Regions from separate parts of the Homo sapiens genome. Here regions 1 and 3 are each linked to region 2. Evidence: fine-mapped expression QTL. A gene starts in region 2. Each other region holds a variant in brackets. All regions are shown on one strand. Distances are between the middles of the regions.

Region 1 (10,644 bases), 61 kb after region 2:
TAGTTTTGTTATTTGCAGTGGTCAGGGGTAGCAATTCTGAAACAATTTTGTATATATATTGTAACACTTAGTACATATGAGTACATAACTAAAAACAGTAAACATATTGAAGTTGCTATGAAAAAGGAAGGATTGAACCACACGCACACAGCACATACACCTGCACTGTCTGCTCGAAGAACAAATGACATCTCAGTAGAAATCAGCACACCTGGCCAGGCGCAGTGGTTCACGCCTGTAATCCCAGCACTTTGGGAGGCCAAGATGGGTGGATCACGAGGTCAGGAGTTCAAGACCAGCCTGCCCAACATGGTGAAACCCTGTCTCTACTGAAAATACAAAAATTAGCTGGGTATGGTGGCACGTGCCTGTAATCCCAGCTACTCGGGAGGCTGAGGCAGGAGAACTGCTTGAACCGGGACCCAGGAGGCAGAGGTAGCAGCGAGCCAAGATCGCGCCACTGCACTCCAGCCTGGGCTACACAGCAACACTCTGTCTCAAAAAAAAAAAAAAAAAAAAAGAAAGAAAGAAATCAGCACACCTAACATTCAAATCTTGATTTCTAAAAACCATTCCCCAACTAAAAAGGACCAGGACTCCTTGAAGAAGTGGCCCATTCCACAGTTGGGGAAAGGAAAGTATGACATAAACCCAAAAGATAAGAATAAACAAAAAAGCCAAAAAGTAAGAAAATACTCAGAAAATAATAAGGGCATATCAAAGGACATTACAGTCAGCTTGCATTGATCAAATCCGCAGATAATTTGAGCATCAAAACGAATAATGAGTTATAACTTATTGTATAAAATAAGAACCCACGAGTCAATGTTAGTGCTGAATAAATCACTAAATAAAAATGAGAAGGGAAATTTATTTCTAACAGTAGAATGACAACTACTAAAACTAACACATTTTGGCTGGGTGCGGTGGCTCACGCCTGTAATCCCAGCACTCTGGGAGGCCAAGGCGGGCAGATCACCTGAGGTCAGGAGTGCGAGACCAGCCTGACCAACATGGCAAAACCCCATTTCTACTAAAAACACAAAAAAATTAGCTGGAAGTAGTAATGCATGCCTATAATCCTAGCTACTCAGGAGGCTGAAGCATAAGAATTGCTCGAACCCAGGAGGTGAAGGTTGCAGTGAGCTGAGATCACAACACTGCACTCCGTCTCAAAGAAAAAAAAATCCTAAATGTGATCACTGTCCTGTGGTTATATAACAATGTCCTTGTTTTTACGAGATACATGCTGAAGGAATAAAGGATCCTGATGTCTGCAACATACTTACAAAAAGATTTTTTTTAAACAGTGATGATGACCGGGTGCAGTGGCTCACGCCTGTAATCCCAGCACTTTGGGAGGCCCAGGTGGGCAGATCACCTGAGGTCAGGAGTCAAGACCAGCCTGGCCAACATGGTGAAACTCCCGTCTCTACAAAAATACAAAAAAAATTAGCCGGGCATGATGGCAGGTGCCTGTAATCCCAGCTACTTGGGAGGCTGAGGTGGAAGAATCGCTTGAACTGGGAGGGAGAGGTTGCAGTGAGCGAGATGGCACCATTGCACTCCAGCCTGGGTGACAGAGAGACTCCATCTCAAAAAAAAAAAAAAAAAAGGGCGATGATAACATGTATATAAAAAGTGATAGGGCCAGCTGTAGTGACCCAAGCCTATAATCCCAACACTTTGGGAGGCCAAAGCAGGTGGATTTCTTGAGCCCAGAGGTTTGAGACCAGCCTGGGCAAGATGGCAAGACTGTCTCTACAAAAAACTTAAAAATGAGCCTAGCATAGTGGTGTGCACATGTAGTCCCAGCTACTCAGGAGTCTGAGGTGGGAAGATCACTTGAGCCCAGGAATTTGAGGCAGCAGTGAACAATGATTGTGCCACTGCACTCCAGGCTGGGCAAGAAAGCCAGATCTGTCTCTTAAAGAAAAAAAGAAGTGATAAAGCAAATACAGCAAAATGTTAATAAATGGCAAATCTGGAAAAAGAGTACACTGGGGCCAGGCATGGTGGCTCACGCCTGTAATCCCAGCACTTTGGGAGGCGGAGGCGGGCGAATCACTTGAGGTCAGGAGTTCAAGACCAGCCTGGCCAACATGGTGAAACTCTGTCTTTACAAAAAATACAAATACTAGGCGTGTGTGGTGGCGGGCGCCTGTAGTCCCAGCTACTCGGGAGTCTGATGCAGAATTGCTTGAACCCAGGAGGTGGAGGTTGCAGTGAGCCAAGATTGCACCACTGCACTCCAGCCTGAGTGACAGAGCAAGACTTCATCTCAAAAAACAAAAACAAAAATAAAAAAAAAAAGGGTACACTGGTGTTTACTGGCAAAATCAAAGCTAAAATTTCTAGTTCAAGTGACTTACCTACTCAATACAATTAAAAAAAATAATCTCAACATTGTTTTCCATATGACTATGTAATGCCAATAATAATTAACATTTACCAAGACATCTCAAGAGAAGGATAAAGAAGATAAAAAAAGTTGGTAATAAACTCAAAAAAATTACTGTGAGTGGTTGGTTCATCTTTGCCTTGGCAATAAGGCTGAGTCAAAGGCAGAATGACATAATTCCTTTCCTTGATCCCTCTATGGATAAGAATATGCTTATTTTCCTAAACCATGTCTTTTCCAATCTCTCTCTCTTTTTTTTTTTCTGAGACGGAGTTTTGCTCTTATTGCCCGGGGGGAGTACAACGGCTCACTGCAGCCTCTACCTCCCGGGTTCAAGCGATTCTCCTGCTTCAACTTCCCAAGTAGCTGGGATTACAGGCAAGCGCCACCACGCCCAGCTAATTTTGTATTTTTAGTAGAGACGGGTTTCTCCATGTTGGTCAGGCTGGTCTTGAACTCTCGACTTCAGGTGATCTGCCTGCCTCGGCCTCCCAAAGTGCTGGGATTACAGGGGTGAGCCACCACACCTGGCTCCAATCTCTTTATTTAGAAATTCTTTCCTAAGACCATTCCAAATTTCTGAACACAAAGCCTCAAATGGCTTCACTTGATCTGGCTAACTCCATTTCACTGGCATGCATGCATTCAATCATTCATTCATTCATCTGACAAAGATTTACTGAGCTCCAACTAAGTAGTGGGCCCAATTCTCTTTCACCAGAGATACAACAGTGAAAAGACAAATTCCCTGCCTCATAAAGCTTACATTCTGCTGGGGAAGATAGACAACACACAGATAAATTAAAATGTAATATATAAGCACCATAATAAAAAATTTTAAATGCAGCATGACACGGGGATATAGCAACGGGGGAAGGGTAATTCTATGCAAAGAGATAGCATTTAAGCAGAGATGTGAAGTAACAGAATGAGACATGAGAATGTCTACAATAGGAACAGCAAAAGACCCAATGAGGACAGCAAATTCAGCACACTGGAGACAAATCCCAAACTTACTTTACTGTATGCAGAGGGTTGATCCTTTAGGGTCTGACAATGCATCATGGTTCCAAGGGCTACTTGCTGGACCAACAGTTGAAATTTTAAATTTCTAGAAACAAAATCTGTCTCACAGTTTACCTGTGGGAACAAATTGATATAGCTGTATAAGCTGTTTAATGATAATTTCCAAAAGTGCCTTAAGGCTGGAGAATAAATCAAGATACTGATAGAACAAGCTACAGACTCAACGGAAAAAAAATGACTCCAAAATTTTAAAGCTACGCTTCCTCTCCTAGCCTGGAACAGAATGAAGTGATTTATGTTGGGCCAGTGAGTTAGCAATAGCCTGTATATTCAGAAGATGGTTCAATAATGTCCTGAAGGACTCACCACAAGTTCACCACTTACCTATGTCTGCACACCATCATCACCTCATTCTCCAGCCATCCCAACTCCAAACCACTTATGCTATTATCTTGTTTATCCCCATCTCTCACTCTAAACTAATCCACATCTGACTCTTCACCAATTATGGCCCCCAAACCTCCTCTAAAATACCTACTCTCTATTCAGCAACAATTAATATAATTAACTTGTAATCTAACTGTTCCAGGAAACAATCAGTGACAAGGTGTAAGCCTGTGCCAGACTCACATTCAGGAGTAATATTCTAGACTGTCAGGCCATTTCTCATCAACACACCAGTACATTTCTATACTTAAACGAATTCGTAACTAATACCCAGGGTTTCATGAGTTTAACTTCAACTACGCTTTATGGTTCTTAAACAGATCTCTTCTTCAAGAACAGGCCCCTTTAGGGCCTACTACAAGCTTTACACCCAAGGGACAGCTGTTCTTGGTATCTGGAATTTCCAACAACTCACCTCTACTAATACAGTTGTGTTTCCTTCCTGCAACAGCCCAATCAGGCCTTCTTTGGTCTTCCTCCCTTGGAGCTTGGCAGCTTTGCTCCAGCCCTCCTTCTGGGCCTCCTTGTGGAGCCAGATCTCTGCCTGTAAATTGAGAGGAAAAAGAGCAGACAACAAAGTCACAGAATTTAGCACTAAATGTAGTTCTAAGATATACTCAGGTTTCCTGATTCTCTAAATTCTCTAACAGAAACTAAAGTAATCTATCATTTACTGGCAGTCTACCACTAAATGCCAAATACCAGGTATTATTATAACTGGTGCCTTGGATGAATCTAATCTTCACAACAACCCTATGGGGCACACAGTTGTATTTTCTTTATACAGTTACGCACCACATAACGATATTTTGGACAATGACGGACTGCATATATGATGACGGTCCCTAAGATTATAATGGAGCTGAAAAATTCCTATTGTCTAGTGACACGGTAGTCCTCCTAACATTGTAGGGCAACATATTACCTACATGTTTGTGGCAATGCTAGTGTAAAGAAAACGTCTGTGCTGCCAGTCCTATTAAAGTATAGCACATACAATTACATATAGTACATGATACTTGAAACAATAATGAACAACTATGTTACTGGCTTATGTATTTACTATAATACATATGCTTTATTGTTATTTTAGAGTGTACTCCAACTTATAAACTACTCGGGTGGCTGAATTTCTTGAACCCGGGAGGCGGAGGTTGCAGTGAACCAAGATCTATCGCGCCACTGCACTCCAGCCTGGGTGACAAAGTGAGACTCCGTCTCAAAAAAATAAAAAATAAAAAAATTTAACAGTAAAACAGCTTCAGGCAGGTCCTTCAAGA[G/C]GTATTCCAGAAAAAAACATTGTTATCATAGGAGATGACAGGTCCATGCCCGTTACTGCCCCTGAAGACCTTCCAGCAGGACAAGATGTGAAAGTGGAACACAGTGTTAATGATGATGCCACTCCTGTGTAGGCCTAGGCTAATGTATGTGTTTGTGTCTCCGTTTTTAACAAAACAATTTTTTAACTTAAAAAAAGTTTTGGCCAGGCGCTGTGGCTCACGCCTGTAATCCCGACACTTTGGGAGGCTGAGGTGGGCGGATCACAAGGTCAGGAGATCGAGACCATCCTGGCTAACACGGTGAAACCCTGTCTCTACTAAAAATACAAAAAATTAGCCGGGCGTGGTGGCGGGCGCCTGTAGTCCCAGCTACTCAGGAGGCTGAGGCAGGAGAATGGTGTGAACCTGGGAGGTGGAGCTTGCAGTGAGCCAAGATTGTGCCACTGCAGTCCAGCCTGGGGGACAGAGTAAGACTCTGTCTCAAAAAAAAAAAAAAAAAAAAAAAAAAAAGATATTTCAATAAAAAAAGTTGTTGTTTTTTTTTTTGAGACAGAGTTTCACTCTTATTGCCCAGGCTGGAGTGCAATGGCACGATCTCGGCTCACCACAACCTCCGCCTTTTGGGTTCAAGAGATTATCCTACCTCAGCCTCCCGAGTAGCTGGGATTACAGGCCCTTGCCACCACACCAGGCTAATTTTATTTTTTTTTAGTAGAGACGAGGTTTCTCCGTGTGGGTCAGGCTAGTCTCGAACTCGCAACCTCAGGTGATCCGCTTGCCTCAGCCTCCCAAAGTTCTGAGATTACAGGCATGAGCCACCACGCCCAGCCAAAAAAAGTTTAAAATTTTAAAAACAGAAAAAAGCTCACAGAAAAAGTGCATAAAGAAAAATATTTTGGTACAGCTGTACAATATGTGTTTTATGCTGTTATTACAAAAGAGTCCAAAAATTTAAAACATGTTAAAAGTTTATAAAATAAAAATGTTACATTAAACTAAGGTTAACTTATTATCACAGAAAAAAATTTCTTATAAATGTAATGTAGCTTATGTGTACTGTGCTTTAACGTCTACTATAGTGCACCATAGTGTCCTAAGGCAGGCCTTCATATTCACTCACCACTCACTGACTCACCCAGAGCAACTTCCAGTCCTGCAAGCTCCATACATGATAAGTTCCCTATGGAGATGTATCGTTTTTTATCTTTTATGCCTATTTACTGTACTTTTTCTATGTTTAGATACACAATACTTACCACTGTGTTACAACTGCCTACAGTATTCAGTCCAGTAACATTTTGTAACGGTTTGTAGCCTAGGAGCAGCTGGCAATTCCATATAGCCCAGGTTGTAGTACAATATACCATCTAGGTTTGTGTAGGTACTCTATGATGTGCATAAGCCAAAATCTCCTAACGACGCCATTTCTCAGAATGTATCTTCCTATTAAGAGACGCATGACCGTACAGGCAAAAACTACACAACTCTGAAAGATTAAGATGTCTAAAGTCAGCCGGGCGCGGTGGCTCACTCCTGTAATCCCACCACTCTGGGAAGCCGAGGCGGGCGGATCACCTGAGGCCAGGAGTTCGAGACCAGCCTGGCCGACACGGCGAAACCCCATCTCTACTAAAAATACAAAAAAAAATAAAAAATAAAAAATAAAATAGCCGGGTGTCGTGGCGCACGCCTGTAATCCCAACTACTCAGGAGGCTGAGGCAGGAGAATCGCTTGAACCCGGGAGGCGGAGGTTGCAGTGAGCCAACATCGTGCCATTGCACGCCGGCCTGGGCCACAGAGCAAGACTCCGTCTGAAAAAAAAAAAAAAAGTCTAAAGTCAGACAGTGTGGGGGCCCCACAATTTGACTCCTGAACAATCTGACTCCAAAGCTCACACAAACCCTTTCAGCTCCAGGCAACAAGAAACACCGTAACAGTCTGGTTTGTTAATCCTGGGATACTCAACTGCTTTCAAATAAGACAAAGTCAAGGCCAAGGTTGTCATTTAAGCCAGATTTCCACTTAGGACTGTGCCATTATGGTCACTGAAGAGCAGTCTAACTTTATGCTCCCCAGCGTGACCGCCCCAAGAGTCTGAGGTCGAGCTCTAGTACTCCGCCCTGCACCCCTCCACACACACACCTGTTTGAGGTCCCCGCCACAAGTCTCCAGAGCTTTCTTGCAATTTACAAAGGAGTAGCCTGTTTTCCGCCGCAGCTTCATGAGGAGCTCCTTGCTGGAGGCCGAGGCAGACAGACGGGGCCCAGCATAAAATGTGTGCCTTGGCTGGGGCGACTGACGCAGAAGAGACCCAGCCTAGATGAGATAAGAAAGGGATGAGGAGCAGGAAGCAGCAAACTCCAGAGGGTGAAGGGTACACGGGCAGGGAAGCGACCTTAGGGAGCGGACAGTGTGCAAAGGGGGGTGCACCGGGGCTGGACTGGGCAGAGGCAATGCTGTCGGGGAAGGTGAGATGGAGTCAAACGAGGTTGGGAGGAAGGGAAAGGTACAGGCGCACAGGAGAGCTGCAGGGACAGCAGGTCGGTACCAGCACCAGGACTTCTCACCGGGTAGCTCCCGGTCCGCGCGACCAGAAACACGCGCAGCGACCGCAGCAGCGACATCTCTCTAGCCGCGATAAACACCCTCCGGCGGGCGCACTGGTGAGGCAACAAACCTACGGCGCGGCGGAAGGGCCAGAATTCTCCAGCGGAACGCACCAAACGAGTATGGTGCCACCTGCTGGCCGGAGGAACACAGTCCTCGCCTCTACTTGATTTCTTGAGACGACACATTTCATACGGGAATTACCCCCCACCTCCCACCCCAGGTAAAATAACAGAAACCAAGAAATAAAGTCGTCACAAAACAACAACACAAGAAATGTGGGTAACATTTTATGTTTATTTTCAATGCGCATTTATATTCATTATCCATTTATGACTCACAACAAACTTGTGTGGTTGGTGAATGGGTTCGAGAATTTGTCCAAGGTCACCTAGGAAGGCAGGGGTGGAATCCATTAAACAAAGCGAGTAAATATTTATTGAATGAGCACAATATCTGTTGAACACCTGTTGTGTGCCAGGAACTGTGTTAGGCTTCAGGGGTTTAGACAGGAGTAAACCACAGCCCTACCCTCCAAGGTAATTTAATGGTGAGAAAATGAGAATCACAAATGTCCATGCAAGACAAATTAAGGTCCCATAAGATGAACCTTATGGGTCTCAGGGAGAAAGAAATCACATTCAAGCAAGAGGCTCAGGAAAGAGGCAAAGAATAATGAAGATTTTGACAGGTGGCAATAGCCTTTCAGGCAGAGGATTATCATAAAGAGTGTGAAAGAAGTCAGAAAACTTTAGTGTGGTTTTAGAGAACAAAGAGTACATCTTTTGTAATTTGGCCAGAGGTCCAATACACGTAGCAAAGGAGTAGGAAATGCAATAGGAAGGTAATTTTGGATCACATGGACACAGACTAAGTACCAAGCAGAGGAGCTTGTTCTTGCTTCTACAGGAAGTGAAAGCTAATCAGAGCTAATTTTGGAAGATCACAAGAGTTTGCGGAATGGACTGAAGGAGAAAGCATGGAAGCAGGGAGTCCAGAGAAGGTGACTATGTGCCTAAGCAGTAAGTAAAGAGAGCCCCAACCAGAAGTACCAATGTGGGAAGAGAAAAGAGGTTAAGGCAAAACACATTAGGAACTGTGTTAGGCTTCAGGGGATTAGAGATTAGGAAGGAAGGACTGATGAAGCTAAAGAAAAATCAAAGATGAAAAGAACTTAGTACTAGGTACAGTATTCTTCTGCACACAATGATGTTCCGTGATCAAGGCTCTAACTCTGGAAAGCATGAAGAAATACAGTCCAAAGGACAGCTCTGCAGCCTTAGCTTCAGAGCTAGGAGGACTTGACCCAGTTAGAGCCATGGTTCCACTAGACTCTATCTCTAAAAAGCAGGAAATGGGTGGTTTGAGGCTTCTTCCTTCTCAGCTCCTGAGTAAAAGTTGGGTTCTTGCACAATAGATTTTTAAGGCTTAATTCTTTCTTAAAAAAAAAAAAAAATCCTAGGCTAGCACAGTGGGCCATGCCTGCAATCCCAGCACTTTGGGAGGCAAGGCGGGTGGATCACTTGAGCCCAGGAGTTTGAGACCACCCTGGGCAACATGGCGAAACCCTGTCTCTACTGAAAATACAAAAATTAGCCGGGTGTGGTGGCGCATGCCTCTAGTCCCAGCTACTTGGGGAGCTGAGGCAGGAAGATCATCTGGGCCTTCAGAGGTTGAGGCTGCAGTGAGCTGTGATCACACCACTGCACTCCAGCCTGGATGACAGAGTGAGACCCTGTCTCAAAAAAAAAGAAAAAAAGAAAAAAAAATCCCACAGAATTTTTTTAAAGTCCATTCTGTGTAAACAGCAACAGGAATGGAAGTGATCAGTGACAGTCTGTCTACAATCACTGCTCTCACATCCCATATATCTCCCTTACCCCCTAAAAATCCTGGATACCTTACCATCCTCCTTCTCTGAGAACAGGAGCCAGGAACCTCCTTGGTGTTCTAACACTAGTGCTGCCAGAACTCTGGGATTCCTTGTAAGCAGGCACCTCACTGCACCTGCCCAAGAGTATCTGGGGTAACAAAGAGGGAAGGAGGAAAGTGAGAGAGGCCAGGGAAATCCATCCTTTTTGGTCCTCATGTTTGTGGCTCTGGAAATATGGTTTTTGAGATACACAGTTCCTTCATTAGAGCAAGAGATTGAGAAGAACAGCAAGGGTGATGTCAAGCAGGTCTTGGTTCCCTGTGCCTGGCCCTATAGATGTTGACATTTTCATCCTCATCCCGCTGAGCCAGCTCCAGTTGGAAATGCTGGGGCAGGAGGTGCTGAAAGAAGCTCTCTGTCCCATGCTCCTTTCTCATCTTGGAGGCCAGATAGATGGTGCCATGGGGCCTGCACAGGTGTTGGAGGGTCCCCAGCAGCAGAGGGAAGGTGGGTTCCAGGTACACGATATCAGCCCCCAGCACCAGGTCATAGTTTGCAGGGAAGACATGATGGTCAATCCCCCAGGACAAGGCACGCACCTGGGCCTGGCCTCCAGCTGGCACATTGGCCTGGACGTTGCCCTGGATCTGTTCTAGGGCCAGGGGCAGGTCAGTGATGGTAACATCCCCCCCTGAGAGAGAGGAAGGAGGAAAAATGCAAGTCAGAGGAACCAACCAAGGGTTCTTGGCTCCTGCCTGGAAGGTCCAGAGACCTCAGAGCATAGAGGACAATGTCTTGACAGCCCAGAGCCCACACTGGCTTTTAGTTGCCTCAACCTCCATTTCACCCACTGCTATTCTCATTACTCTACATTCTACAACATCAACATTCTCTCTGAGCTAATCTTCAACCTCTCTGGCCAACACACAACAATCAGATGTCAGCAGAAGCCTGGGCAGGACTAAGCTGGAGATGGGTTCTGTACCCACCCCCACTGACACAAGCTCGC
Region 2 (10,644 bases):
GGGCACCAAGCTCTGGAATCTTGGCATTGACATCCACCTACTCATGAACAATACAAAGCAGAACTGAGACTGCAGGGACAATCAGAAAAACCAAGAAAATCAATGTGTTCCTTTTTTTAAAAAAAAAGTTTTTAAGAAAAAAAGTAATATTTCAGTGACATCAGAGATAATCATGAAAGGTCGGTAGCCCAACCTTGTACTTATTTTCTGTGGGGAAAAGGGCAATTAGGCATCTCCCATGGAGGAAGCTCCTCCAGCTGTTTCCCTTTCGCCAGCCTTGGCTCGGGACACCCAGTCCGACTTCAGTAGCCACAGCAGGAGACAGACAGGGACAGCCACTCCATGTTTGCCCCACATAGCCCCCCATTCTAGCATTTGGGGGTAATGGGGACACTGCTGTTGTTTCCAAATTGCCTCTTACCAACCATGCAGTCAGAGAGGCCAGAGGAAAGGGGATACAGCAGGTAGGGAACCAAGTGAGAGTCAGTGGGCTTTCTCCTGGGAGAGTTGTTAGACCTGGCTTCAGCTATCTCCCTTGAACCACCTAAAATGAACCACCTAAAGTTACACAACCAGCAACTGGCCCAGGCCCCGTAGGCAGGATGTTATTTTTGAGGCTATTTTAGGCAGAAGTTAGAAGGTCCACTTGCCTCCCACCACCCTCACCACTTCAACTATAGGAAAGAGGCCCACCATGACCCTACAGAGCTTTCCAGAGTGCAGACCTTTTCCTAGTCATCTGTGGACAGAGCAGTGAGAAGCCTGTGGCATCAAGAGAGCAAGCCCCACCTATGTTTGGGGTTCCAGGCTCCAGTAGCGCCTCCACTGCTTTTGTAGTCTCTGGAAGCACAGGGGTCCTCACCAGGCCTCTTGGGAACTGCCCCTCCTCCCTCATTTACCCCTCCTTGCTGGGTTCTATTTGTACCCTTGTGCCTCTGGCCTTGGAAGGGGTTCTATCTGTTATACATAAATTTTTCTTTGACCTCAGAGCAAGAAATGCTTGAGGACCATCTCCTCTGCATCTTTCAGGGACAGCCAGAGCCCTGAGACACACATGAAGGCATCTACTGCATCCAGGAGTGAAAGTAGCATTGTTTTAACACTGGGTCACAATCCGGTGGTGGTTTGTGAATTCAATTTAAAAGGTCATGGCTGGCACCTTAAAACCATCAAATAGAACACAATACGTGCAATAGAAAATATGAGTGTGCACACATAGCCAGGGTAAGTATTGTCCATGAAACTTTTGTATCATTTATCTCACAACATAAAATGTGTTTCTTGCTGTAGGTCACTGAACAAATCCCTGGACAAAAGAACACTGGTTCAGACATAAAGTCAAGGCCAGGCATGGTGGCTCACACTGGTAATCCTAGCACTTTGGGAGGCCAAGAGGCAGGTGGATCACCTGAGGTCAGGAGTTTGAGACCAGCCTGGCCAACATGGTGAAACCCCATCTCTACTAAAAATAGAAAAATTAGCTGGGCATGGTGGCAGGTGCCTGTAATCCCAGCTACTCAAGAGGCTGAGGCAGGAGAATTGCTTGAACCGGGGAGGCGGAGGTTGCAGTGAGCCAAGATCACGCCACTTCACTCCAGCTGGGGCAACAGAGTGAGACTTCATCTCAACATGTACAAGTCACCTGTTCTGTGTTAGGCACTCTGCTAGGCACAAGAAATCCAGTAAAGAATAAGACATCCCCTAGTCTCAATCCACCTTCTGGTTGGGAAGCCAATAAGCACACAGTTGCAAGATAGGGTGCCAAGTGGTCTGAGAGAGTATGTATGAGGCTATAAAACCCTGACATGAGGGCGGGCATCTGGGAGGGCTTCCAGGAGAGGTGATGCAATTGGAGTTCACAGCAGGAAAAGAGAGCGATAGGTTCTAGTGTCTCCTCCATCCTATAGATAAGAAGGGAACTATGTTAAAGTGTCAAGGGTTCTAGTCTTAAAGTCCAAAGACATCCTGTCTCCTCTTCTTAACAAGCTGTGAGGTCTCAGGTGAGTCAATTAACCTTCCCAGACCAATTCCTCATTTACAAAACAGGCATCTATAAAAATGGGCATAATATCTGCTCTATCAACCTCAAAGAAGTGAGAGATCAAATGAAATAGATAATATATGTGAAAGTACTTTGTAAATTACAAAAGGGGAGGTATTGTCTCTATGGATGAGGAAATGGAAGCATAACGAAGTGAAGTGTCCTGCCCTACAGTGCTATGGGTAGCAGGCCCCTCTAAATCCTCAGTCCTCAGCTCCTGCCTGCATTCCTCCCACTGCAACTAATCTACCTTAGAAGAGGGCAGGGGAAGGGTCTAAAAAGGCCCCCATAGCAACCTGACTATTGAAGATTTACCTTAAAGATCCTATTGTTTTAATGATGGGAGGTGGGTATGTCAGAACTCCTCCGTTTCCCTTTCTGTTAATGAATTAAGATCTACCCAAATTCAGTGTTTAAAGTTACATAAGCATCATTCAGATCTGTAACAGCCACTTTCATTTTGGAAAAACAGCATTTCCATTAAAATGATGTTATATAAAAAGGTTTTGTATACGTGCGTAGGAACAGCAGAAACAGGCACACATGATCACTGTATGGCACACAGGCATATGCAGATCATGACCTCACCTGTCCTCATGAGGAAGGGACCATAGGAAGCAGGTGTCTGATAGTACCTGGCAAGCTTAGCTGTGACCTAGTTGTCCTCTAATCATCAGTAAGACCTGATGCATGTTGGGCAATGGGAACTGCAGCAGGAAGGAAGCCCCTTCCTTGGCAGGGTGAGTGCCACTGAATCACAGAATATTGGGGTTGGATTTAGCTCAGAAGTCACCCAGTGCAATCTCACTCTACACCACTCTTGCCGGCCTTGACTTGAACAGCTACCATTGTCCCAAGGCAGCCCATGTCACCTGTGGACAGATGTAGATCACTGGAAAAGACCTGATATTGAGCTGAAACCAGCCTTTCTGGAGCTACCACCGCTGGGGAACAAAAGCACCCACAACCTTGAGCAGAGACTCCAGGAGCTGTAGCCAGCGGAGCGTGCCCCGAGGCCTAAAGAGCAAGTGGGGAAGGCAGCCTGAGTCCACAAAGCTGAAGCTCCTCCGAGAGACCTCCATCCATCTAAAGGAAGCTGGGACTGTGGGGGCAAAAAGAGAGGGGTAGGATGAGGGAGGTAGGGAGGAGGGGCGGAGTCGGGGCCGCCTAAATGGGAGTAAGTCGGTGGGTGTGAGGAAAGCCCAGCACCTCAGGTCTCATTTTCAGTGTTTTGGGGGACACAGTCCCGAGGTCAGTTCCAGCTCTTATACTCTGGAGTCCTAGGTCCGCCCACACGCACACACCCCTTTCGGGATTCGAAGGTTGTACTTTTTTTTTTTTTTTTTTGAGACAGAGTCTCGCTCTGTCGCCCAGGCTGGAGTGCAGTGGCGCGATCTCGGCTACCTGCAATCTCCGCCTCCCGGGTTCAAGCAAGTCTTTGCCTCAGCCTCCCGAGTAGCTGGGATTACAGGCGCCCGCCACCACGCCCGGCTAATTTTTTTGTATTTTTAGTAGAGACGGGGTTTCACCATCTTGGCCAGGCTGGTCTTGAACTCCTGACCTCGTGATCCACCCACCTCGGCCTTCCAAAGTGCTGGGATTACAGGCGTGAGCCACCGCGCCTGGCCTCGACGGTTGTACTTTTATGTGACTTGGTACGTCCTTGATTCTAGGGCTAAGCAGGGGGGTAAGGTAACTTCCGATCCGCCCCATCCCCTGCTGGAGTCAGGTTAGGCTTAGCGGCTTGTCTTGGTCACCCCTGAAGGGGGAAACCTTTCCACCTTCCCCGAGTGCGCCCTCCGAGAAAAGAACACCCCAGCACAGAGCACCAGAACGTGAGCTTCGGAGCGGCCTTTTAAATAGTTGGGAAGGGGGTGTGGCCGAGGAGACTGGGAGGCCGCAGTCTGGCGCGGGGGGAGTGGCCCGGGGGCGTGGCCGTGGCGCCTGGAATGTTGTTAGGTCCTCTCACCGCATAGTAAGGAGGGGCCACGCCCCTTTTCTCCAAGAGAGCCAATCGGAGCACCGGAACGGTTTCAAGTCTCCCCCGCCAGCCTGCCCGCCCGCCACCCCACCCCCCTTGAGGATTCGCTTTTTCCGTAACAAAATAGCAAAGCTCCCGACTGTCCGCAGCCCCGGCCGCTCACAGATGGAGGGTCCCAGGGCCTAGGACGCAGCCCCCAGCGGGAAGCTCCAGCTGGCCGTGAAGAGGCCGAGTCGAGAGCCGGGAGGCGCGCGGGGGTGGGCGCTGCAGCCGCGGGTTGTTTATCTGGAGTACGGAGGGGAGGGGGGAGCCTGGAAACCGCCCCGTGTCCCATTTCCTCCTCTTGTTTTCGCTCCGGATTCTCCATGTTGGACCCAAACTGAGGAGCCCGGAGCTGCCGCTGGGGGATCGGGGCCGGGGGCACCCGGGGGAGCCGCTGCCCGGGCCGCCCGCCCTTTGTACAGGCCGCCTCCCTTCCCGGTCCGGGGAGGAAACGAGAGGGGGGATGTGAACAGCTGTGGAAGTCGGAGTCTCGGGAGCCGGAGCGGGCCCCCGCCCAGGCCCCCCAGCCCAGCCCAGCCCGCGCGCCCGCCCGTCCTCCCGCCCAGCCAGCCCGGGCCCGCGGGATTGTTAGATGGAACACGGCTCCATCATCACCCAGGCGCGGAGGGAAGACGCCCTGGTGCTCACCAAGCAAGGTAGGGGCAGCAACTTCCCAAAACTTTGCGTCGCCCCCGGGCGCGGAGGGGGCTAGCACAGCCCCGAACCCAGGTCTCGGCCCTTGACCTCCAGGGCTTAGAGCCAGCGATCCCGACTGGACCCCTCCGGTCCATCCGCCCCCGCATCCCGGCTGGCACTCAGACCTCCGTGGGGGTTGCACGGGGATCCCGGCGCCCGAGCGGAAAGGGCGTCTTCGGCGCAGCTGTCACCCTGTCCCGCAACCCCTCCCCCTCGGGGCTGAGAGACGGAGGGGTAGCTCTCGAAGCACTGGGCCACTCCGCGTCCACCGCCTCCGGAGTTGGGGGTGGGGTCGTCACTTTCCTTCACCGCCGCGCGCGGCTGCCCCGGGATCGCGGGGAGGGGTTAGGAAGGTGACAGAGGGAGCCCCAGGTGGAACGGAACCGAGACTGGAGTCCAGCACTTGCAGGCCCCCCCAAGCCCGAGGTCGTTCGGGCAGCTAGCTGGCGGTGACGGCGTCCGGCGGGACTTGGGACCAAGTTCACCTCTTGGAGGCGGGGGCGGTCGCGGTGGGGGAGGGGCCCGGGCCCTGGCGCACCAGACGTGGCGGGTTCCCGGCTCAGCGCAGGCCCCGGGACCTTGGCGGCGTCGGGCTCCCTCCCGGCTGCCTCTGACCAGTTTCGCTGAGCAAACAAGCCCGACCCTGAGGCCCGGCCAGAGCCCCTCCCTGCCCGGTGCGCTCCCCCGGGGCCGGCGCTGCACACACAGAGCCGCGTTTGTTTAGCCCGGGAGCGGTGTCCCTGGTTACATAATTCGCCGGATGGCATCAGACCCGGCGTGGTTCTGAATCGCGCAGCGAAAAAGTGCGAGTTCTCTGTGGGCAGCGGCTGGCGGCCCCCGCCTTCCAGAGCGTCAGGTGGAGGCGCGAGGGGGCCCGCAGGCCCTCGCGGGGGTGAGGCGGAGGCCGAGGCCTCTCCCGGGGCGGGAGAAAGCTGGGGCCCGAGGGTGGAACCTCTTAGTTTGGTCACAGTGGGAGACTCGAAACTCTTTCCCCCTCCGCCACGTTCTTCTTTTGGCCTTGAGGAATGTGTCCAAAATAGCGGCAGATTTTCCGCGGGGTGTAAGGACGAGTGTGGCGTTTCTCTAGAGAGCCCCCCGACCGGGGCCACCTGGCCCCGGAGGCTGGGGCGGGAGCTGGCTCCTGGGGCCGAAGCCGGAGCGCTCCCTCCCCTTCTCCACCGAGCGCGAAGGGCCGGTGCTGCAGTTGAACACACTGAGGCCTAGAGCCTGGTGGGCGGCCAGCTTCGGGGCCTCGTGCGCCCCACGTCTCCCCGTTTGGCAACATTAGTCAGCAGGTCACTAATTCCTGGGGTTCACGTTCCAAGGAGCTCCCCCAACTTCCCTAGGGGCAAATCCGCTGAGTTGGTGGTGTCAGCCTCTCCCAAATTCCCTCAGTGGAACGAGAGGAGCTGGGAGGGGGGAAGGGTGGGGGGAGGGAGGCAGTGTGTTCCTCTTGCATCACTGGCCGGACTTTAAATAAGCCTGCCCTGAGAAGGGATGGCCTTGCCTACTCAGATCCCAACCCCCGAGAAGGCTCCGGCCTCCCTGACCTCGGTGTTGCCATGATTTCTGCTCTCCTGGCTGCATCACTAACCAGGCTGTGACCCAGGCAGCAACTTCACCGCCTCTGCTGGCTGCTCAACTGTGCTGATGGCTGAAAAAGGAAGGGAGCCTGCGTGTGTTTATAGCTCACTCCTGACTCTTCCCACTCCCTTTTTATCCCAGGAAAAGACCCTAAGAGCTAGCCAGAGGGGAAGAAACCTAGATGTGGGGGGATTCAAGAGGGGGCAGTGGTGATGAGTAGGGGGAGGAGCCCTGTGCTTCCCCACTAGGTCTTCCTCTCTTGCAGGGACTCTCTTGCAGGGAGTGTGCCTTGGGCATCGTGGGGCCACGCGAGGAGTAAGGGAAAGCTGGACTGCGCCGGGGCATCTTAGAAATCAGAGCTGGAAGTTTCATCCACCAGGGTGAATGGCAGGCTACAGAATAGATAACAGCAGAAAGCAAAGCAACTGGCTTGACAGTGTTAAGTTGCTGGTGTTGGATTTTCTTGGAGTTAATGTTTCTCCTTTTTTGTGTGTGTGGTTTAAGCCAGCAGCCACTGGGTCTCTCCCTCCCCATGTAATTTTTTATTTTAATTGAGATGGAGTCTTACTCTGTTGCCCAGGCTAGAGTGCAGTGGCGCAATCTCAGCTCACTGCAACCTCCGCCTCCTAAATTCAAGCAATTCTCCTGCCTCAGCCTCCCAAGTAGCTGGGATTACAGGCGCGCGCCATCACGCTTGGCTAATTTTTTTGTATTTTTTAGTAGAGACAGGGGTTTCGCCAGTTGCCCAGGCTGGTCTCGACTCCTGAGGTGATCAGCCCCCTTCGGCCTCCCAAAGTGCTGGGATTACAGGCGTGAGCCACCGCGCCCGGCCCCTCCCCATGTAATTTGATTGCATTCCAGAGAAGACAGACTTTCTTCCTGGGCTGCTTAGGCACCCAGCAACCACTAAACCAACTTTCTGAGTCCCACATCATTTACAAACAAAACCTACGTCTTCAAAACAAAACAAAAAACAAAAGCTGGGGGACTGGGGAAGCAGATGTTTTAATTGGCTCCTTTTGGAGTTCCTTCTTCTCCCCACTCCGTCCTCTCCACAACATCCCATCTCCATGCCTTGCCTGCCTTTGGAAAAAGGGGAAGAAGGAGTGTGAGGTACTTATTATTAATAAGTAAATTTCTGGAAAGAAACAAATTGCTCCTAGCTTGGGTGGCTATTTAGTGAAGTTACTTGCCATTGCGGGTTTTTTTTTTCTTTTTTTAGCATTCTGTTCTCTGAGGTTTAAGGCTGTCTGGGTGCGTTGATGATTCAAAAGTAATTACAGTAGGGGAAGTAGAACAAAGTTGCTGAAAGCATTGATGATAAAAGCACCAAAATTGGATCATCTTCCCAGACAGATGGGTGAAATGGCTTTCTGGTACAGCAAGGACAGGATTGTGTGTAACATCAAAAAGAAAAAAGAAATGTTAATATCAGCTTGGCAAGAATGGCTGTTGATTGCAGCTCTATATGAGATTGTCACCCCATTGCTAAGAGGTTGTGACCTTGGCTTTGGGATTAGATGGGGGAAAGCCAAGGAAACAAGACCCACGCTGTAACCTCCCAACGTGAAATGAGACCTGGTGGAGGCAGCCTCTTCCGGAGCTCAGTGACCCACACGCCTTTTGGAGGAATCAGAGATTTTTTTGTTGTCCATGAATCCTGATGCCCCTTCCTCTCGATGATGCCCTGGATTACCTTCTCACATGCCGAACTGGACAGGTTCTGATAGCTAATTGCAAGGATTCTTCTGAGAGACTGACCATCTCTGAAAATTACGATGTGGCAAGTTTTCAGGATGGCTAGCTCTTTTGTTATCCGCATAAGGGAGAAATTCTGCCTTATTCCCTCAAAAAGTTGTTCAGACACCGTTCACTGTAGATGTAGGCAAGCCTTTAACTTGAAAAGCTTAGACATGAATCTTGCTGGAGCTTCCTTCCATAGCTTGCTATGCAGGGGGCGGGAAGCCTGCATGTTTATAGCTGGCTCCTCCTCCTGCCCTGCTGGTGCCTCTCACCTTCCTTTGCCTACCCTGGGTCTTGGCCTCTTTGTGCTCTCACAGTGACTGCTGAGGCTCCCTCCTGCATCTCCTTTGGAGTTTTTCCCCCATCTTTGGGTAAGGGTTGCAGCCTGCGTGGTGACTTAAGCTTGTGTTTGCTCCTGTCCCCAAAATTGCAGAGGAGCGCTGATAAATCAGCAACAAAGTTTGTAAATGCCTAACATCTGGGGCTGGGGGTTTGCAGTTGACTTGCAGAGCTTTCCACTGAGCAGCACTGGAATTGCTGTGAAAAATCCCTCGGAGGATGGCAGAGGTGGGGGTGTTCCTTTGTCCTCTCTTCTCAACCGTAGAGGTCTTAAAGAAACTGGGTAGCAGAGAGGTGTCATTTCATCCTTTCCATGGGACCTTCCAAATCCCTTATCATGGATTTTGTTAAAATGGTAAATACTAAAGAAGTCACATTTCTAGCCAACGTGAATTGATGCTCCCAACCTGTGAAGAATTAAAGTGTTTGTAAATAAGCATGGAAAAGAAAGACAATATGTAAATATATATGGGATTGTGTGTATGTGTGTACATATCAATACATAGCTTCCCTTCCAATTCCTCCTACAATTTTTTTTTTCTGCTAGCTTTTGGGTAATTTGGGGTATTGTCTTTTATTCCCATCATGGTAAGTTTGGTTCTTAGATTGGACAGAGTGGGGACCAGGGTCAGGGATGGTGGTTAAAGTTTACATTGTTACTTCAAAGCATTGTTTCTGAAGCAAAATTGCTTCAGGCCTGGGTTCAAATACCTTCTTTTCCTATTTGCAATGAGACTTGATAAATCACTTTAGTATTCTGAGTAACTTATCTATAAAGTAGTAATAATGATATCTACCCTTCTATTATACTTGGTACTTAGTAGGTGCTTGATAAATATTAATGTCCTCCCTCTTTACATAGTTAGACTACTCTGTTCGCCCTCCTCCATTCCCCCAAGGACACAGTGTAAACAGCACGTAGTCTTGTGGGTTTTATTTTTCAAGACAGGTGGCCGGGGGTCAGAGGGGACACTGATTGTGGGGGCTTGGGCCTTCTGGAAGGATCAACCTCTTAGGCTTACAAACAGCCTTGCTGCACAGACCCCTTCTTTGTGTCATGTGACTTGGGATGTGATTTGTTATCTGCCTGGGCTGTGGGACTTTGGCCATTCTGTCTGGTGCCTGGGCATCTGGGGGTGGGAGAAGGCCAGGCATGTGCCCCCTGTGAGTCTCTAAAGTCTAAACTTCCTTAGAGGTTCTCAAATATGGATATAACGAATATTCAGGACAACTGTATGCTACATTCTCTCACTGTCTGCTTTGAGAGTTAATGAATTCAGAGAGATTGAGGTTTCTTTTAGGTAATTTTAATAAGAGGGGGAAAAAGAAAATGGGGTTTGAAGAGAAATAGATGTTCTTAAGCTATTTGTTTGCTCCTGTGGTTTTGGGGTACAACATTGAGAAAGTACAAAAGCAGCATTGATCTGCTTTTCATCTTGTCTTAGTCTGGCCAGCTCTGGGAAGCATGGAATTAACTCGCTTGTCTTTGGGACGTGGGATTGGGTGTGGCCCTGACATATTTCCCTCACTTTTCTGAAATGGAGTAGTAGTTCTGAACTGGGATGCAGATGAGCACATTAACACGCAAATCTTACAAAGAAAGTACTAGAAATTAAAGTGGATAAGTTGACGACTTAAAACTGGAAGCATCTCTGGACCAGAGACCAAATAGAATGGAGTTTCTTTGTCTGGCAAAATGCCCAGCCCTTCAGGTCTGAGTATGCCTGCACCAGGATCTGTTATCACAGGGTACTCCAGTGAGCGCCACAGCCTCCCTCTAGGCAAAAGTGTGTATGCCCTGTTTTATGTTAGCTATTCTAGGAGTTAGCCTTGAACCTGATCTCTGAGTGGATCTGACATTTCCATTTCCCTCCTAGGTGCTCTAGTCCTTCCCCCACCCCCATCCCCCCAAATCAGACTTTGCTCTTACTCTCTTTTTATTCTATACCTTCTTTTATTTCTTGCCACAGCTTTTTCCATCCTCTTGAATTTGCACTTTCCCATCTGCATTGTTCCCAGGGAACAAATATGGCCCCAATCCCAGTGAGAGCCAAGCAGACTCATGGAAAGGCTCAAATTGCCTGCGGAAGGCTTCCTGGATAGTAGATCCCAGCTTTTCTGTTCCCGCAGCAGAATAGAGCTAGGACCCCTCTTTCACAGGAACAGGGGCCTGCAGGTAGAGACAGCAGACCCAGGTTTTCTGACTCACGTCACATAG
Region 3 (10,644 bases), 28 kb after region 2:
CCAACTTGTTGAGATGTGTGTTTGACTGTGAGAGAGTGTGTGTTTGTGTGTGTGTTTTGCCATGAACTGTGGCCCCAGTGTATAGTGTTTCAGTGGGGGAGAAGCTGAAAGACCAAGACTCTTCCCAAGTTAGCTTGTCTCCTCTCCTGTCACCCTAAGAGCCACTGAGTTGTGTAGGGATGAAGACTATTGAAGACTCCATTGCCAAACCATGGCCTTTCCTCAGTGTTGTAAGGCCTATGCCAAGGATAAAGGAAGGGTATGCCTTTGGGTACTCCAGGCACACACCTTTCTGAAATCCTTCTCCAGCCAGCTGCTGCAGACAAAAGATCACATTTCTGGGAAGATGAGAACTTGTTTCCAGACCAGCATCCAGTGGCCATCAGGTCTTGTGGCCCAAAGGCTATGCTTGCCTCCGGCTGAGTGCCTGGGATAGGCCTTTTCTATGTCTCCCCAAGGCTGGGGTGCTGAGCCTGCCTTCCTCACCACCTAGCCATAGTCTCAAACCTGTGGGGAAGGAGGTTTTCTCCCTGCCCGGGAAGAGGACAGATAACTGATTTCCGTTCTTTTGACTGTGTTTTAAAATTCTCTTTCTAAACACAGAGTGTTGGGCCTGGTTTGTTTCTGACAAAGTTACAGTCCTGGGCCTGTAATGAATGTCGGCGGCGCTGGGGTTGCAGGGAAAAGACAAATCCTCAAAGCGTGGACGTGTGTCCCCATGGCTTGTGGATCAGCTAAGCTCGGGATCATTTCCATAAGTCTGCTTTTCAGGGATTCTCTGCTGGTGCTGGTGCAAGGACTTCTGTTCCAAAGGCTGGGAAAAACTAAGCTGTCCCAGCCCCTCCCATTTCTTGGGCAGGGCTCTTTTCCTGTTGTGTCTTCCCCCAGGGCCTGTCCTGTACCGAGCTCTGTCTGTTCCAGCCTTCATCCTTCCTGGCTGTTGCTTTTCCTCTTAAGGGCCTCAGAACTCTTGCTCTTCCTGGGCTGAGGGGGAATGAGTGTTCTTGCCATTTGCCAGCCTAATGCGCATGCTTTCTGCCTCTGGTAACAGGAGTGAGTGAGCCCCTCAGACCTGCACTCTGGGTGTCTCCTGCTTTCAAAGGTTCTTAATAGTGAATGCTTTAAAATTAAAGTCATCACGAAATGGAAGTTTTCCCAGGGTGGAAAATAAGAGGAAGTGCTGCTGTAATTGGGAGCACAAGGGGCCTCCCAAAAAGGAGCCCCACCTCAGCATCACTGCCTTAATCGTGGCCTCCCTGGGGTGGGTGGGGTTCTCTCCTCCCTCCCTCCCTCCTCCTGGGGTGGGAGGGCGCTCCTGTTCCCATCTCTGTGTTCCCTGGAGGCAGGTATCACAAAGCATTTGTGAATTGCTTTAGGTGCAGGGACACCACCCACTCAGGACTCTTCCCCATCATCCCTTCCATTGCCACACCCTAGATCCAGCCTCAGGAACTAACAAGTTTTGAGAAAAGCAGGTAGTAGAGCAGCAGCTTCGTGCTCTCAGCGGTGGCTGGCTGGCATTTTTCTCTAGCGTTGTGGTGCCACCTTCCCTTCTTGTCCCAAGGTTATAAGGCCTTGTCTTTCTCTTTGGAATCATAAAGTGGAACAGAGTCCCCAGAACTCATGTGGCCATTTCCGCCAGCATCACTCCCCGGTGCCTATGGGGTCCCGGTGTACCTAAAGGGAGAAGGACCCCATGTGCTAGCCAGAAATATACTGTCTCTTGAAGGAAAGCAGGAGCTCAGACTCTTAGAGCCAGCTGTGGCTTCGGACCCAAGGCCTGACCTAGGCTGCTATCCTAATATTGCAGGAGGGGCCTCTCTTCCAAGCCCCACCCTAAGGGTTAGCCCTTGGCCAAATCTTTTGCCGTCTAGGCCCAGCCAGGCTTTTCTGACTAAATAAGCAATAAGAGGCTCTAAGCTGACTGAGTTGCAAGGACCCTTTCCGCCCTCCCTTGGATCTCCATGTTTTTCCAGATGGCGGAAGAGCATGTGCCACCCCCTTTCCTAACAGACTTGTCCAAGTGCTTGGCGTGGGACCCATGACCAAAGCCCAGGATGGCTTGGTGGGAGTGTCCCTGCTGCATCTGCATGAAGCCCCTGCTTTTTAGGCCTCACTCCCATCAGAACCCTGCCTGCCCACCTGCAACTCCCCCCCAACAATGCCATTCCCACTTGCCCCAGAGAAGCTACTCGGCCAAACCTAGCCAGGGTCTGTTCTTGTGGACCAGAGCCAGCCTAGTCATTATTTGCTGTCGGGTTTCCAGTTTCACCGTGTGTTAGGGTGAGGGATGATTGTAAAATTTGCTCCTCAAAGGAATCAGGCCAGACTCAATTTTGGAGGGCAAGACAGGGAGGAGGCCGCTTCATCCCAGACTCTCTTCTAGGGCTTCCCACCATCAGCCCCTCCCACTTGAGACTGGTCTTTGGGAGGCAATAGGCCACCATGCCTGGTCAGCACCAATTCAAGCCATGCCAGGAATCTGCCTACCTGCCAGGTTCAGTTCTTTTAAGGTGCCTCTTCAGGGACAC[A/T]GTGTGTCTCTCTGATTGGGCTTCTAAATCAAAAGCCTGATGTTCGTGTCCCTCTCATAGGGGGAGCTTTGGACACAGGACCAGTTTGGAAAAGGGTCAGGTAAGGGTTTCCACTCTGCACATTGTAGAGGGAACACTCTGTAGGCCCATGGGTCCCTTACTAGAGAGGTTGAGTGAATTTGCCTTCAGTTAACATGGGACCTTCTGTTTAGCTTCCTCTTGCTTCCCAAAGATTTTAAGCATTTTGTAAATGTATAAACTCACCTCTGGTAACAGTGGCCCAGACGCTGCTTTGTGCTAAAAGCATGGGAAATGTAAAGGCAGTCTTTCTCTGGGAAATGGATGCTATTCTATTCTGCTGCCCCTACCTGTTCCTGAGGCCTCATTTAGAAAGAAAATCCCCTCAGAAGGCTGTCTGGCACCCAGTGTCCTAGCCAGGCCAAGTATATGAGAAAGGTAAGTCCATTTTCCCCTTCAGGTCCTCAGTGGATTACTTAACCACTGCTGTCCCTCGGTCCCTTTTTCCTAAACGGGTTTAGTTCTGTCTTTTTTCTCCTTTTTTCTAAATGCTGGTAAATATTTACATTCAGCCAGGGAAGAGGAGGCCAGAGGTCGGGCCAGCTGCCCCATTCTTTTAACGTTGTAGGGCCTGCCCATGGAGCGGACCCTCCTCTTTGGGCCTCGTGAGCTTTTTTGCTTATCATGTTCCATTTCGTGCCGCTTTCCCCCTTCAAGATGCCATTTGGAGGGTAGGGGATCTGCTTCCCACTGTGACTGGGCTATGGGATTCTGACTACCTTGCTTACAGATTCATGGTTTGATAAATTTGTTGTATTCAAAAACTTGAAATGCAGGACGCCATTAAGTGTCTGTTTATATTTTTGGAATATTTGTATTACTTACAATTAATTAATAAAAGTGGGTTTAAAAAACCTTTCCAGGAATGTGAGCTGCCACCAACCTTCATTGGCCCTTAAGTGTTCACTGGGCCCATGGCAAGCACCGCCTTTCTTCTCGCAACCCCTTCCATCATGAAGCAGCTGCACCCCCGGGCTGAGTGGGGTGTTGCACCCACCGGGAGGCCAGCTGCAGATGCCACACAGGGCTTCCGCTCAAGGTTACACAAGTTCTGCTGTGATCAACCCCATTGCAGTCAGGTGCTTAGCACGTGTATATGCTTGATGTCCTATTGACTTCTGGGCATGAACCAGAAGCCCTAAGGGAATGGATTATTATTTTTTTTTTTTTTTTTGAAATGGAGTCTTGCTCTGTTGCCCAGGCTAGAGGCAGTGGCATGATCTCAGCTCACTGCAACCTCCACCTCCCAGGTTCAAGCGATTCTCCTGCCTCAGTCTCCTGAGTAGCTGGGATTACAGGCGCCTGCCAGCACGCCCGGCTCATTTTTGTATTTTTAGTAGAGATGGGGTTTCACCATCTTGGCCAGGCTGTTTTCAAACTCCTCACATTGTGATCCACCCACCTCAGCCTCCCAAAGTGCTGGGATTACAGGCGTGAGCCACCACCACACCCAGCCCTGGGAATGGAGTCTTGATTCTTCTCTGCCCCTCACTGATTCTTCCAAACTGGAAACCCTGAAGCTGAGAGCCCAGCATGGTTCCTGGCAAACAGCAGGCACTCAAATATTGATTGGTTTACTGTATGACTAGTAGAGACCCCAACGAGCAAAACTGTGGCCTAATAAAATTCTGGCTCCTCTCCCAGACTTCCCCTCCCTTTGAGAAATGCCAGAAGCTTCTTAGGGAGGCTCTTGCCAACCTAGACATCACAGGCACTCATGGGGCAGCTCCAGCCTCTTCCTCCTGTCATCACCATAATGCATCCATATCTACAATATGGCAAATTTCATATCCTTCCAACCTCTTTCCTGCATTATTGATGGGCTGTGTGCACTTTTTAAAAAATCAATTAGATCAGGGCGTGGAGCTGGAGTTCAAAGAAGCCTTTAAAAGTCTGCTCTTCTGTTTTGCTGTTTTGAATAGGCACAGATAAAGCTTTCCCTCTGGTTTGAATAAGCCAAGCTCAGTGCTAGGTTGGCTCTGATTGGCCAGGACTAGGAAAATGCGGTTAAGATGCAAACACAAGCAAATATAACCCAGTATCTCTGCGGCCATTACTAAGCTAAGGCAGCAGGACCTGGAGCCTCCTGCTTTGGAGTGGTTCTTCAATACTGCTGCTGCTTACGCGCCGGGAAACTGGGAAGGCTGGTGAGCGAGAAGGCAAGGTAAGGTCTCTGATTTACGGGGGCATGCCAGTTAATCCTCCTGAATGAGGAAGAAATGAAAGGAAGAGGAGCTTGAGAGTCCCTTGGCTTTGTCTTCTGAGATGAGGCTTTTAAAATGAACCAGGAGTCTGGCTGGCCAGTTTTGCAAACTTCTTGTTCAGAAGAACCCCTTAGAGGCAGCTGAACATATAGGGCACATTTTCAAAAGCTGGGAAAGACAGACCCCTTTCACCTATCCCTAGAGAAAGATGGTATGGAGCAAGGCAGGAGGAGTTAAAACCAGCTTCCTGGCCCAGAGAGGTGGCTTACACCTGTAATCCCAACACTTTGGGAAGCCAGGGCATGAGGATTGTTTGAGCCCAGGAGTTTGTAACTTGTGACCATCCTGGGCAACATAGTGAGACCCTGTCTCTACAAAAAAAAAAAAAAAAAAAAAAAAAAAAAAAGCCAAGCATGGTGGTGCACACCTGTGGTCTCAGCTTCTCAGGAGGCTGAGGCAGAAGGATCACTTGAGCCCAGGAGGTGGCGGTTGCAGTGAGCCGTGATTGTACCACTGCACTCCAGCCTGGGTGACAGAGCAAGACCCTGTCTCAAAAACAACAACAACAAAAAACAGCTTCCTCTGCTCAGGGTCCGTCCAAAAGGGCATCTCTGAGAATTACAGGCCACTGGCTTTTAACCTGACATTTCAAAACTGTGCCCCACACCCAAGGGGTTTCTGCAGTCCTCTCAAAGGATACTGAATTAGGATTTAGGGAGAAGGAGAGACCCAGCTTTGGGAGATTTGATGTCAGAACTGTGTTTTCTGTGTGTTCCAGTGTGACAGGAAGTCCCTTCCTGGAGCTTATCCTCTCGCATTCGGGGTGCCTGGCCCAGGGAGCTCCTTGATTCCTAAATTCCTGCTGGGAAACGGGACAGGTTTCAGCCTCTGAGGCTCACAGTCCTAATTGCTGCCGGCTGGTTTGGCTTTTACCAGGGTGACAGTTCTCTGTCTCCAAGGAATGAATTCAGTGGCCCTTGTCCCCTTCCCCTAGTTGGCTCATGGCTTTTGCCTTTAATGACTGCTACGTAGGGTCTGAAGAAAACCCAAACACCATATTTCCTGGCAATTCTGAGCAGCACAGGGTGGGGCAGCACAAGTTATCAAATTAAATTCTCAAACACTGGCTGCTCCGCACCATTGCCTTGCTTTAGTCCTGCTACAGCAGTAGACAAAGCGAGTCTGCTTTGAGCTTTATGGTTTTTTGCCAAAGTCCATACTAGATGGCGCATGCTCTCCAAACTTGGCTTTGTCCATCAAGGTTCAAGAAAACAATGGTCAGACATGTTCCTCTTAACAAACAGTATGTCCCCAAACAGCAAAAATGCATACAGTCCTTTCTGGGTGAATTTTTAAATCTTACATAAATCCATCAACCCCATCCTTTTTCCTTTGCCTCTTGGGAGAAATTAATCTAGCTTTACATTAATTATGCATGTTATCAGATTTCAAGCTCCTTGAGAGCAGGTATTTTAATTCTATAAAGCCTCTACGTGGCCTTGGACATGGGTAGGTGCTTAATTACCCAAGATGCTCCTTGAATACAGATGGTACACGACCTACACAGACTTAGATCTTTACCACTTCCCCCCTCTCCCCACCCTGACTTGCTCAATCCTGAAGGAACTGGAGACGTCTAAGTGTCTGAGGTTCACGCTTCCACACAGAAGCTTGGGTCTGTGTGGGAGGGAAAAAGGAAGCCATCTGTCCGCAGGCCAGACCAGGCCACACCCTGCTAGCACCCAGAACCCTTTGTCCCAGGCCCAGCCCTGCCATTTTACTTTCCTTGCATCTGGAAAGCACAGGGAATATAGTAGTGACAAAAGAAGGAAGGGTTGTTTGAGTTTAAGAATAGTTTACTCTAAAAAAAAAAAAAAAAAAAAAAAAAGGACAAAAGCCAAAGAGAAGGTCAAAGTTGACTGTGGAGAAGGCCTTGCAAGCAGGGAACTTGGGAAGAATTGGAATGAGAGTGAGAGAAGGCAACTGAGTTTGGAAATATTTTTTCTGACTAGCTTTTCTTTCCAAATGCCACTGAACTTAGATTGGTTTAGGAAGGGTTGTAGTACATCAAAGTGGCTAGAAGCACAGGTTTGGGGATCAGATAAGGATTTCATTCTAGAGTGTGATCTTGTACAAGTTATTCAGCCTTTGCAAACCTCAGATTCACACAATGTAAGATGAAGAAACTCACCTTCTGAAAATTAGAGATAACATATGCAAAGTGAATCAATACAGGGCTTAACATATTTATCACCCCTTTGGTAAATAACCATGACGATTACCAGAGCTCTTAAGGGCAATGGCAGGTGGGAAGCAGAACTCATGGGTGGTAATCCCCAGGCCAGCCAGGCTCACCATGTGCACTTGGACAAGTCCTTGCCCCCATCATTGTGAAATGGTGCAGGGATGCACCATGAGGGTGTGGCAGGATGGCTGACAACAGACTGGGAAGCAGCTCGGCAGAAAAACTGGATTGATGCCCACTATGGCAAGAGATATCATCTCCCCTCTTGTTCTGTGATGTTTCAGTCCTGGAAAGACAAGCATCATGCCTCTGACCAGTGCCTTCAGGGCTGTGGACAACGACCCTGGGATCATTGTCTGGAGAATAGAGGTGAGCTGGGCTGGAGGCACCTTACTTGTGACCACTGGCATCTGGAAGCAGTCTGGCTGCCTGGGGCTGCTAGGCAACAGCCCGCCAGCACCCCTTAGCCTATGGTTTGAGGAGAATGAGAGGCAGCATCAAAGTACCTATTTCCCATCCTTCACCTCTCCTGGGTGCTCAAAGCAGGTGGTTGGCAGGTGGAGGAAATGTTCAGCCCCGAAGAACAGGGCTCCAGACAAAAACAGGCTTGTCCTTTAGCCAGCCACCTGCTCAGTGAGTCTGCACTTGCAGGAAACACCCTGGAAAGACAGGTGGGACCTACTCAGCAGACTCCTGGCAGCTTCCATCAGAGAAATGGAACATGTCTTCCACGGGGCACCCTGGCTCCTACAAAATATGGGGAGAGGTGAGGGGGCACTGCAGAGATGAGGAGCTGTTCAGCCCGTCTCCTCTTGGGCTTGGGACCCTCTGTGCGGCTGTGAGCTCCAGCAATCCATAGCTGGGAACCACCCTGGCCTGGGTAGCTCCACCTGCCAGATACGAGGATTCCCCCCAACCCCTGCCCTGAGCCCAGTCAGTTGCTGCTGCCTAAAACCCAGCGATGATGCCTCACTTCACTATCCTCAACCAGGAGGGGGAGTCAGCTCTCCAGCAAGCCTCGCAGAGATTGTGAGTCCCAGGTCACTTCCACTGTTTGAAGGCTTCCAGTTTCCTTAAAAACTAACAGGTACTGGCGGGGTGCGGTGGCTCACGCCTGTAATCCCAGCACTCTGGGAGGCTGAGGCGGGTGGATCACGAAGTCAGGAGATTGAGACCATCCTGGCTAACACAGTGAAACCCCACCTCTACTAAAAATACAAAAAATTAGCTGGGCATGGTGGCAGGCGCCTATAGTCCCAGCTACTCAGGAGGCTGAGGCAGGAGAATGGCGTGAACCCGGGAGGCGGAGCTTGCAGTGAGCCGAGATCGCGCCACTGCACTCCAGCCTGGGAGACACAGGGAGACTCCCTCTCAAAAAAAACAAAAACAAAAACAAAAAACAAGTACTAAAACACGGTTACCAGATTTGCAGTATATTTAACATTTATCACATTTTACATAGAACACACACAAGTATGGCCGCAAGTTTCCCTCACTTGGGGAGTGTGATGAAAATCTACATCAAGGCTGTGTGAACAGTCCTCCAGGGCCAAGCCATACATGCAGTGATAAATCAGGGCCCTGACCCAGACTCCAAATATAAGACACTTGGCACAGAGCCCTGCTGACCGCTGGCACTCTCCAAATGTTATCCTCCACCTCCCACGGCCCCACAGAATCCAAGTGTTCTTTCTTACATGGGCCTGGGCCAGCACCCAGTGGTCAGCGTTGGGAAGAGCGTTGGAGGTGCTGGCACAACGGCTCAGAGAAGGGTTTGTACTTGGTCGTTTATATCCAGCAAAGGGCTGGAGGTGGTTCACAGGTTTCCCACAATAGTGCGAGATGAGATCGGGTGGGAAGTAGAGTGGAGAATAGGGCAAGGGAAAGCAGGATAGGGACCAAGGTTCAGATCCGGGGTGATGCAAGCAGAGCTCACAGAAGCCAGAGGGATGGCCACGTTAACCCTGTGGCTGGCAGCCTCACATCCTGTAAGGTCATTGAGAACATCTCCCCTCCTTCTCCCCACCACCTGCACCGAATGACAGAGAGGAGAGGGAGGCTCATGGGGAAGGGAGGTGGGAGGGGATGTAGCCTATACCCACCCCTTGTCCTTCCAGAAAATGGAGCTGGCGCTGGTGCCTGTGAGCGCCCACGGCAACTTCTATGAGGGGGACTGCTACGTCATCCTCTCGGTGAGCACCCTCCTCCCCACTCCTGTGAGCCTCTCCCCTGGGGCCAGTTCTTGGGCTGTACTGGGAGATGTGCTGGTGAGGGAAGGTAGTCAGTCCCTGGTATCGGTCTCAATGGTTCCTCAGTGCTATGCAGAGCAGACCTCCAGTCTGACTATCAAAGGCCATCATTAAGCCTGGGTTTTTAATGCTGCATAAGAGGATGGGGGTAGGACCCTCAGTCTGAACCTCAGTGAGCCACCCACAAGCAGCACTTCTCCCGGGCCTAGGCCCCACATTAAAGTGGTGTGGAAGAAGGCCTGATAAATGCAAGGCCTGTCTCTAGCCTCAAAGTGCTATTCTCATGGAGGAGACTCACATGAACGGTGCTGACAGGGTCGTGCAGGTGTACAGATGAGCACTGTGCCAGCTGTGTGAGTGCAAGGGACCAAGGGGACCTGTGAGGTAAGCCTGCAACCCGGCTGGGAAAAGATCCCCGTTGGTATCTATTTATTTGGGGAACAACAAGCTGTCAACTTTCCCCAAATGCGGGGAGGAATTTGGGCTGCCAAAGTTTATGCCATGATCGCAGGTCTGCTCGGGGGCCAGGGCAGCTCCCACATCCACTGCAGGAGAGAGGGCCCTCAGTCTGCCAAGGGCATGCACATGTGCTGCATTCTCCCCATAACAGGGGCCAGCAGCAAAGGGGAGGTGAGCTGGCCTCTGACCTGATCTCTCTGACTACCTCCCAGACCCGGAGAGTGGCCAGTCTCCTATCCCAGGACATCCACTTCTGGATCGGGAAGGACTCCTCCCAGGATGAGCAAAGCTGCGCAGCCATATATACCACACAGCTGGACGACTACCTGGGAGGCAGCCCTGTGCAGCACCGAGAGGTCCAGTACCATGAGTCAGACACTTTCCGTGGCTACTTCAAGCAGGGCATCATGTGAGTAGGGGTGCACAGAGCAAGGACAGAAACAGCAGTTTACAGAGGAGGAAACCCAAAAGGCCAACATGCATTATCAAGAAAGTAATCAGAGAAATGCAAATCAAAACAAAGCTGTCACTTCCACCCACTAGAGCAGCAGATTAAACAGCTGGGAGGTGCCAAGTGTTGGCAAGGCTATGGGGAAATAGGAGCCCTTGTGCCCTGCTGATGGAAGTGTGGACTAGCGCAGCATCCTGGAGAGTAGTCAGTGCCACTTGCAAATCCCACTTCTGCATGTGTAACTCACAGAAATCCTCACGTATCCAGGTCCATAAGGGCACATGGACCAGACTGTTCATAGCAGCCTCATTAATGATGTTAGGAAGCTGCAGGCAACGTAGGTGTCCATCACTCGGAGACTGGACATGCACACCACGGAGTATTATGCAGTAGCCAGAAGCAACAGATTAGATACACACCTAACACA

The links. PIP is the estimated chance that this variant, and not a neighbour inherited with it, causes the effect.
Region 1: its variant is the best candidate, but not a certain one, in a credible set for the expression of CTDSP2 in whole blood (TOPMed, PIP 0.54).
Region 3: its variant is the best candidate, but not a certain one, in a credible set for the expression of CTDSP2 in whole blood (TOPMed, PIP 0.67).

What each region holds. Positions count from the first base shown.
Region 1 is chr12:57,779,937-57,790,580 of GRCh38, reverse strand. TSFM (Ts translation elongation factor, mitochondrial) reads right to left here and starts at 7,794. Exons shown (of 6, transcript NM_005726.6): 1 at 7,723-7,794; 2 at 7,298-7,471; 3 at 4,290-4,418; 4 at 3,419-3,541. The coding sequence starts at 7,779. EEF1AKMT3 (EEF1A lysine methyltransferase 3) reads right to left here. Exons shown (of 3, transcript NM_015433.3): 3 at 8,040-10,326. The coding sequence ends at 9,935. RefSeq lists enhancers at 7,741-7,810, 7,164-8,033. The variant G/C (reference allele first, on the strand shown) is at 5,155.
Region 2 is chr12:57,840,448-57,851,091 of GRCh38, reverse strand. CTDSP2 (CTD small phosphatase 2) reads left to right here and starts at 4,363. Exons shown (of 8, transcript NM_005730.4): 1 at 4,363-4,720. The coding sequence starts at 4,657. CTDSP2-AS1 (CTDSP2 antisense RNA 1) reads right to left here. Exons shown (of 2, transcript NR_188077.1): 2 at 7,331-8,833. RefSeq lists silencers at 3,882-4,061, 4,132-4,211, 4,222-4,651, 5,242-5,541, 5,872-5,921.
Region 3 is chr12:57,812,758-57,823,401 of GRCh38, reverse strand. AVIL (advillin) reads left to right here and starts at 4,668. Exons shown (of 20, transcript NM_006576.4): 1 at 4,668-4,773; 2 at 7,343-7,427; 3 at 9,176-9,250; 4 at 9,979-10,175. The coding sequence starts at 7,362. CTDSP2 (CTD small phosphatase 2) reads left to right here. Exons shown (of 8, transcript NM_005730.4): 8 at 1-3,475. The variant A/T (reference allele first, on the strand shown) is at 2,532.